Linked DNA regions of Homo sapiens: region 1 is linked to region 2. A link means that fine-mapping ties the variant in region 2 to the expression of a gene that starts in the linked region. Tissue or cell type: subcutaneous fat. Region 2 holds a variant in brackets; the other region holds the start of a gene. All regions are shown on one strand. Distances are from middle to middle.

Region 1 (2,918 bases), 30 kb before region 2:
CCTTACCCCTCCCAACTCAAACAAATTAACATTTGTACTAGGTACCTCCTATCAGCTCGCAGCTTCTTCCCAAACACGCCCACGTACACTGAAACTGGCTTGCGTCTACACAACACACAGCTACAGGAAAAGAGCTTCGAGGGGGGAGCTGGGGCGGGGGGTTAATAATTCGCTCCGCACAGGTTTACGGCTATTTTCCAGAAACTAGTTCCTCGCTCGTGGCTCGCGTTTCTTCCAAATCACCTCAAAAGCACGGTGTTTATGAGCCTACCTAATCCGATACTGCAATGGAATTCCGGATATTTGCAGACAGATCTCCCGGCTTTGCAAGTGTTTGATGAGATACGTTCGGAATCTCCTTTTTTTTCTAGAGCCCGGTTCCAGGCCGTAGAGCAAGCCGACCTGGGGCTGCGGCCCCTGCCCCACACCCGGCCCGCGCGCCCGGCCCGAGGCCAGCACAGGACGCAGCCCCTCCGGGGCCGGGGCTGGCGGGGGCCGCTCGGGCTGCGGGCCGCTCTGCAACAGGTCACCCTGACCGCGACTCCGCGGGTTCGCGGGCGGCCAACTCTGCGGCCAGGCTTCTGGGCGCAGCCGCCAGGGCCAGGGGAGGGGGTGTGGCCCGGCTTCTGCTGGTCCTGGCTCCGAGGTCCGGGATCGGGCTCACCTGAAGGAAGACTGAGGCGCCGCTGGGCGCCAGAACAGAGCGGGCGGAGGCTGGGGGCTTCCGCCACCCAAGAGGGAGAGCGAGGCGGGTTCAAGGGGTCGCAGCGCCCCCGGCTTCAGGACGGCGCCCCCGAGCGGGGACCCCACGGCCGCTCCGACTCTGAGAACCCGCGGCCGAGGGAGGCGCGCCGCCCAGCGCCCTTCTCCCTCAGCCTCAGCCCCAGCTCCGCAGCCCCCTCCCTGCGCGCAGGGCGAGCAGCCCCGGGGCCCGCGGCCGGGAGAGCCACACTCCGCAGCGCCGCCGCCGCCATTCCCCGCGCCGCCCGGGGGGCGCCGCGTACCCACCCTCCCTCCCTCCCTCCCCCGCACCGCCCCGCGGCCTGAGCCCACCGACCTGTGCAGCCGCGGCCGTCGCCTCAGAGGACGGAAAGACGATGCCGGCCTCACGCTTCACCGCCACGGCCGCCGCCGCCTAGAGTAGCACTCGTCGACCCGAACAGTCACCGTCTCTCATTCAGCGCCCGCAGCAGCCGCCGCCGCCGCCGCCGCTGCCGCTCGGGGGAGGAGAGTGAGCTGGAACCACCCCGTCCGCGCCAGGGGTGGGGGACGAGAGCGGACCTGGCGGGGGCGCGCGCCAAGCGGGCGGGGCGGAGCCGCGCGCGCGCGCGCACCAACGGAGCGCGCTCGCGGGGGCTCTGAGAGCTGCAGCCGTCAGGGTCTTAACCTCGCGCTTCCCGCCCGCAGCTTTTCGGCCCCGCGGAGCCCAACTGCCGCCGGTGATCGGTGCCCGCAGCGCGCGCAGCCATCCGCAACCCCACCGCCCGGCGCCTGCTGAAAGGAGGGGCTCCCACCGGCCAAACAACGGGGGGGGGAAGGGGTAGGAGGATGGACAGGTGGGGCGTCCGCCACCGCCTGGCCACCCGCTCCCGGAACGCGGCCCTCTGTGAAATCCGCCGTGATGTCTGTGGCCTTCAGCGCCGGGCTCTTCACCTTTAAGGCCAGAGAACAAAGTCTGGAAGCACTTGGCCCCAAGATCAAATATCCAGCCCACGCCAGCGGTGTTTTTAGAAGTCACTGAGGACAAATGAGGGGGCTCCCAATGTGGAGAGTCACCCCACTGTCTTAGATAAGGTCATAAATTATGGTGATCAACATCCTCACACATTAAGATTCGGGAAGTGTTAGAAGTAGGCCTTTGTAAGATGTTACGCAGGGTACTACCCTTGACTTAAGGAGCAAATGACAGAAATTGGGCGGAAAGGTGTTGTTTCAGAGTCTACTAAATGGGTGGCCTACTTAAAGCTAGCACCATTTGATGCAGTGTGACTGTTAACGGAAGGTTTTAAGTGAGCCGCCTTTGTATCTGCTGTCATTAGACCATTTGGAAATGGATAATTATTTGATGATCTGCAGTTCTTTCTCTAGGCAATGTGCAGTAGAATGTGGAAAGAATACTATGTACCAGCATTAAGTGTAAAACATGAAAGGACCAATAATTCACTATTCCCATTTGGTTTCTTTCTTCCCTTTAATAACCGCTAAACAGAACTGATTAATCTTGAACGTTGAAGATTGCTAATTATTTCCTCCTTTGATTGCCTTCTGTCATAGCCCTTTTACTCTAGTTGGGGACGCTAGAATGCCCTTCAACCTCCTTCTCTCAAATAGGGTTACTTTAAAGCACCCCAACGCAAAGTTAAGTCAAAAAGAAAAACAGCGAGGATAGGCAACAAAGTTCGTAGTGTTTCATTTTTATTCCATTTTACTTTCAAAGAAAGTCTTGAATCATGACGAAATCACTAGAAGAAGTAGAGCAATCAAAAGAAGAAAAAAAGCGTTCCCCCCCACCCAATATTTCAAATGACAAGAGTCCAAAAAAGAAAAGAAAAAGGAAGATGATTGGTAAAAAGGAGGGAAGTGCATTATGTATACAGAAAGTTTTCGCATAGATGTTAGTTGCTTCAAGTCCCAAATAAACAACAACTAAATGAATTAGCACTTGGAGGAAAAACCCCTTCCAGTTATTGAGTTGGGTAAATGTTTAGTCTTCTTAAAGTGTTACTAAGAGATTAAGGAAAATGTCGTTGGCTATATGCCAACAATAATACATGCAACATACATACCATTATCACACATAATTAACTGCTCTTAAGAAATATGAAAACTGAGGAACGGAACTCTTATGTTGTTAAATGTCATACAATTACTTGAAACTTGAATTAGGGTTTCATAGATATAAATGAGGCAGGGTCCCT
Region 2 (2,918 bases):
ACCATGCCCGGCTAATTTTTGTATTTTTAGTGAAGACAGGGTTTCACCATGTTGGCCAGGCTTGTCTTGAATTCCTGACCTTAGGTGATCCGTCTGCCTTGCCTTCCAAAGTGTTAATATTACAGCCGTGAGCCACTGCGCCCAGCCCAATCTACCAATCTATCTATCTTATCTATCTACTCTATCTATCTAATCTATCTATCTATCTATCTATCATCTATCATCTATCTATCATCTATCTATCTATCTATCATCTATCTATCATCTATCTATCATCTATCTATCATCTATCATCTATCTATCTACCTATCTATCTATCTATCATCTATCTATCTATCATCTATCTATCTATCTATCATCTATCTATCTATCATCTATCTATCTATCATCTATCTATCTATCTATCATCTATCTATCTATCTATCTACCTATCTATCTATCTATCATCTATCTATCTATCTATCTATCATCTATCTATCATCTATCTATCATCTATCTATCTATCTATCATCTATCTATCTATCATCTATCTATCTATCATCTATCTATCTATCTATCATCTATCTATCTATCTATCTATCTATCTATCTATCTATCATCTATCTATCATCTATCTATCTATCTATCTATCATCTATCTATCTATCTATCATCTATCTATCTATCTATCTATCTATCATCTATCTATCTATCATCTATCTATCTATCTATCTATCTATCTATCTATCTATCTATCATCTATCTATCTATCTATCATCTATCTATCTATCATCTATCTATCTATCATCTATCTATCTATCATCTATCTATCATCTATCTATCTATCTATCATCTATCATCTATCTATCTATCTATCATCTATCTATCTATCATCTATCTATCTATCTATCATCTATCTATCATCTATCTATCTATCTATCATCTATCTATCTATCTATCTATCTATCTATCATCTATCTATCTATCTATCTATCTATCTATCTATCTATCATCTATCTATCAACTATCTATCTATCATCTATCTATCTATCTATCTATCTATCTATCTATCTATCTATCTATCCCTTTTACATAGTTAGTATTCTCTTCAATCCACTCAATATTTATTAAAGATTTAGTCAAGTGTCCAAAAATACTCTCACGTTTAATCAGGATGACCTCAGGTCATCCTCAGTTGCATCAGGTCATCCTGATTAAAGAAACCTCCATGTTTGTTTGCAACTGACAAAGCCTAAACTAACCAGTTGTGGTGGACTTTGCAAAAAGAAGGTCTTGGAAAGAGAATGATCTGATTTGCTTAGCCTCCCTAAAAGGAATGCAGCCAGATTTGGTGG[T/A]ATGTGCCTGTAGTCCCAGCTACTCAGAATGCTGAGTTAAGAGGATCCCTTGAGACCTGGAGTTCAAAGTGTAGTGCACTATAATGGCACCTGTGAATAGTCACTACTGTCCAACCTGGGCAACATAGTGAGACCCCATGTCTTAAAAAAAAATAAAATAAACAGGTTGGGAGCGAAGGCTCATGCCTGTGTTCCCAGCACTTGTGGGCCAAGGTAGGTTGATTGCTTGAGCCCAGGAGTTTGAGGCCAGCCTGGGCAATATGGCAAACCCCATCTTTACAAAAAAATACAAAAATGAACTGGGTGTGGTGGCACATGCCTGCAGTCTCAGCTACTCTGGAAGCTGAAGTGGGAGGATCCTTGAGCCTGGGAGGCAGAGATTGCAATGAACTGAGATCCTGCCACTGCACTCCAGCCTAGGTGACAGACTGAGACCCTGTCTCAAAAAATAAACAAATAGGCTGGGCGCAGTGGCTCATGCCTGTAATCTCAGCACGTTGGGAGGCCGAGGCTGGCAGATCACTTGAGGCCAGGAGTTCAAGACCAGCCTGGCTAACATGGCAAAACCCTGTTTCTACTAAAAATACAAAAATTAGCCAGTCATGGCAGCGTACTCTTACAATCCCAGCTACTTGGGAGGCTGAGGCATGATCAGGAGGCTAAGCTGGGCGTAGTGACTCACATCTGTAATCCCAGCACTTTGGGAGGCCGAGACGGGTGGATCACTTGAGGTCAGGAGTTCGAGACTAGCCTGGCCAAAATGGTGGAACCCTGTCTCTACTAAAAATACAAAAATTAGCTGGGCATGGTGGCAGGCACCTGTAATCCCAGCTACTTGAGAGGCTGAGATAGGGGAATCGCTTGAGCCTGGGAGGCGGAGGTTGCAGTGAGCTGAGATTGCACCATTGCACTCCTGGGCAACACAGCAAGACTCCATCTCAAAAAAAAGGAAAGGAAAGTAGAAGAGAGGAGAGGAGAGGAGAGGAGAGGAGAGGAGAGGAGAGGAGAGGAAAGGAGTCTGAATCTGAGGCAGGAGAATCGTTCGAGCTCGAGAGGCAGAGCTTACAGTGGAGCCAAAATCATGTCACTGCACTCCAGCCTGGGAGACAGAGGGGAAACTGTCTCAAATATAAATAAAAATAAATAAATAAATAAATACTAATTAAAAAAATAAACCAAACAAATCAAAGAAATGCAGAGAGCAAGAATTTGGCAGTGTCTGTCAAATATCACCACGCACACACCATTTTATATTCTACTCCCTTATACCCTCTACCTCATTCCATTCATATTAATTTGCATTTTCAATATTTTTCACTTCTCCCTATTTTGAGTGGGTTCCCAGTTTCTCTCAATGGGAGAAAGTACATCTTCCATTGCTTTCCTGGGACTGGGGATTTTTCCCAGGCAAAATTTACCAGCAATAGAGTCAAAGCCTCCTCTTGGGTTTTGTAAAAATCCCAAGGCCCTTGAAGAGAATTATGAAGAGTGTCCTGGAGGAAAGAGAAGAGGGCAAATACTTTTCTTTCTTTCTTTCTTTCTTTTTTTTTAACTTTTGGAGAGAAATGGTAATTCTCTCCAGAAA

Which allele goes with the higher level. Positions count from the first base shown, and alleles are read on the strand shown. Sizes are in standard deviations (SD) of each study's normalised expression.
As copies of A replace T in region 2, the expression in subcutaneous fat of the gene that starts at base 1,233 in region 1 goes up (moderate effect, 0.57 SD a copy in GTEx).

Evidence for each region.
Region 1: RALGPS2 starts here. The variant in region 2 is fine-mapped to the expression of RALGPS2 in subcutaneous fat (GTEx, PIP 0.94). The same link has a PIP of 0.9 or more in thyroid.

Annotation. Positions count from the first base shown.
Region 1 is chr1:178,723,559-178,726,476 of GRCh38, reverse strand. RALGPS2 (Ral GEF with PH domain and SH3 binding motif 2) reads right to left here and starts at 1,233. Exons shown (of 20, transcript NM_152663.5): 1 at 1,058-1,233. RALGPS2-AS1 (RALGPS2 antisense RNA 1) reads left to right here and starts at 193. Exons shown (of 1, transcript NR_187252.1): 1 at 193-2,918. RefSeq lists silencers at 424-653, 854-973, 1,234-1,403, 1,305-1,459 and an enhancer at 294-883.
Region 2 is chr1:178,693,632-178,696,549 of GRCh38, reverse strand. No RefSeq gene overlaps it. Among named protein-coding and RNA genes, the nearest start is that of MIR4424, 17 kb to the right of the region's middle. The variant T/A (reference allele first, on the strand shown) is at 1,334.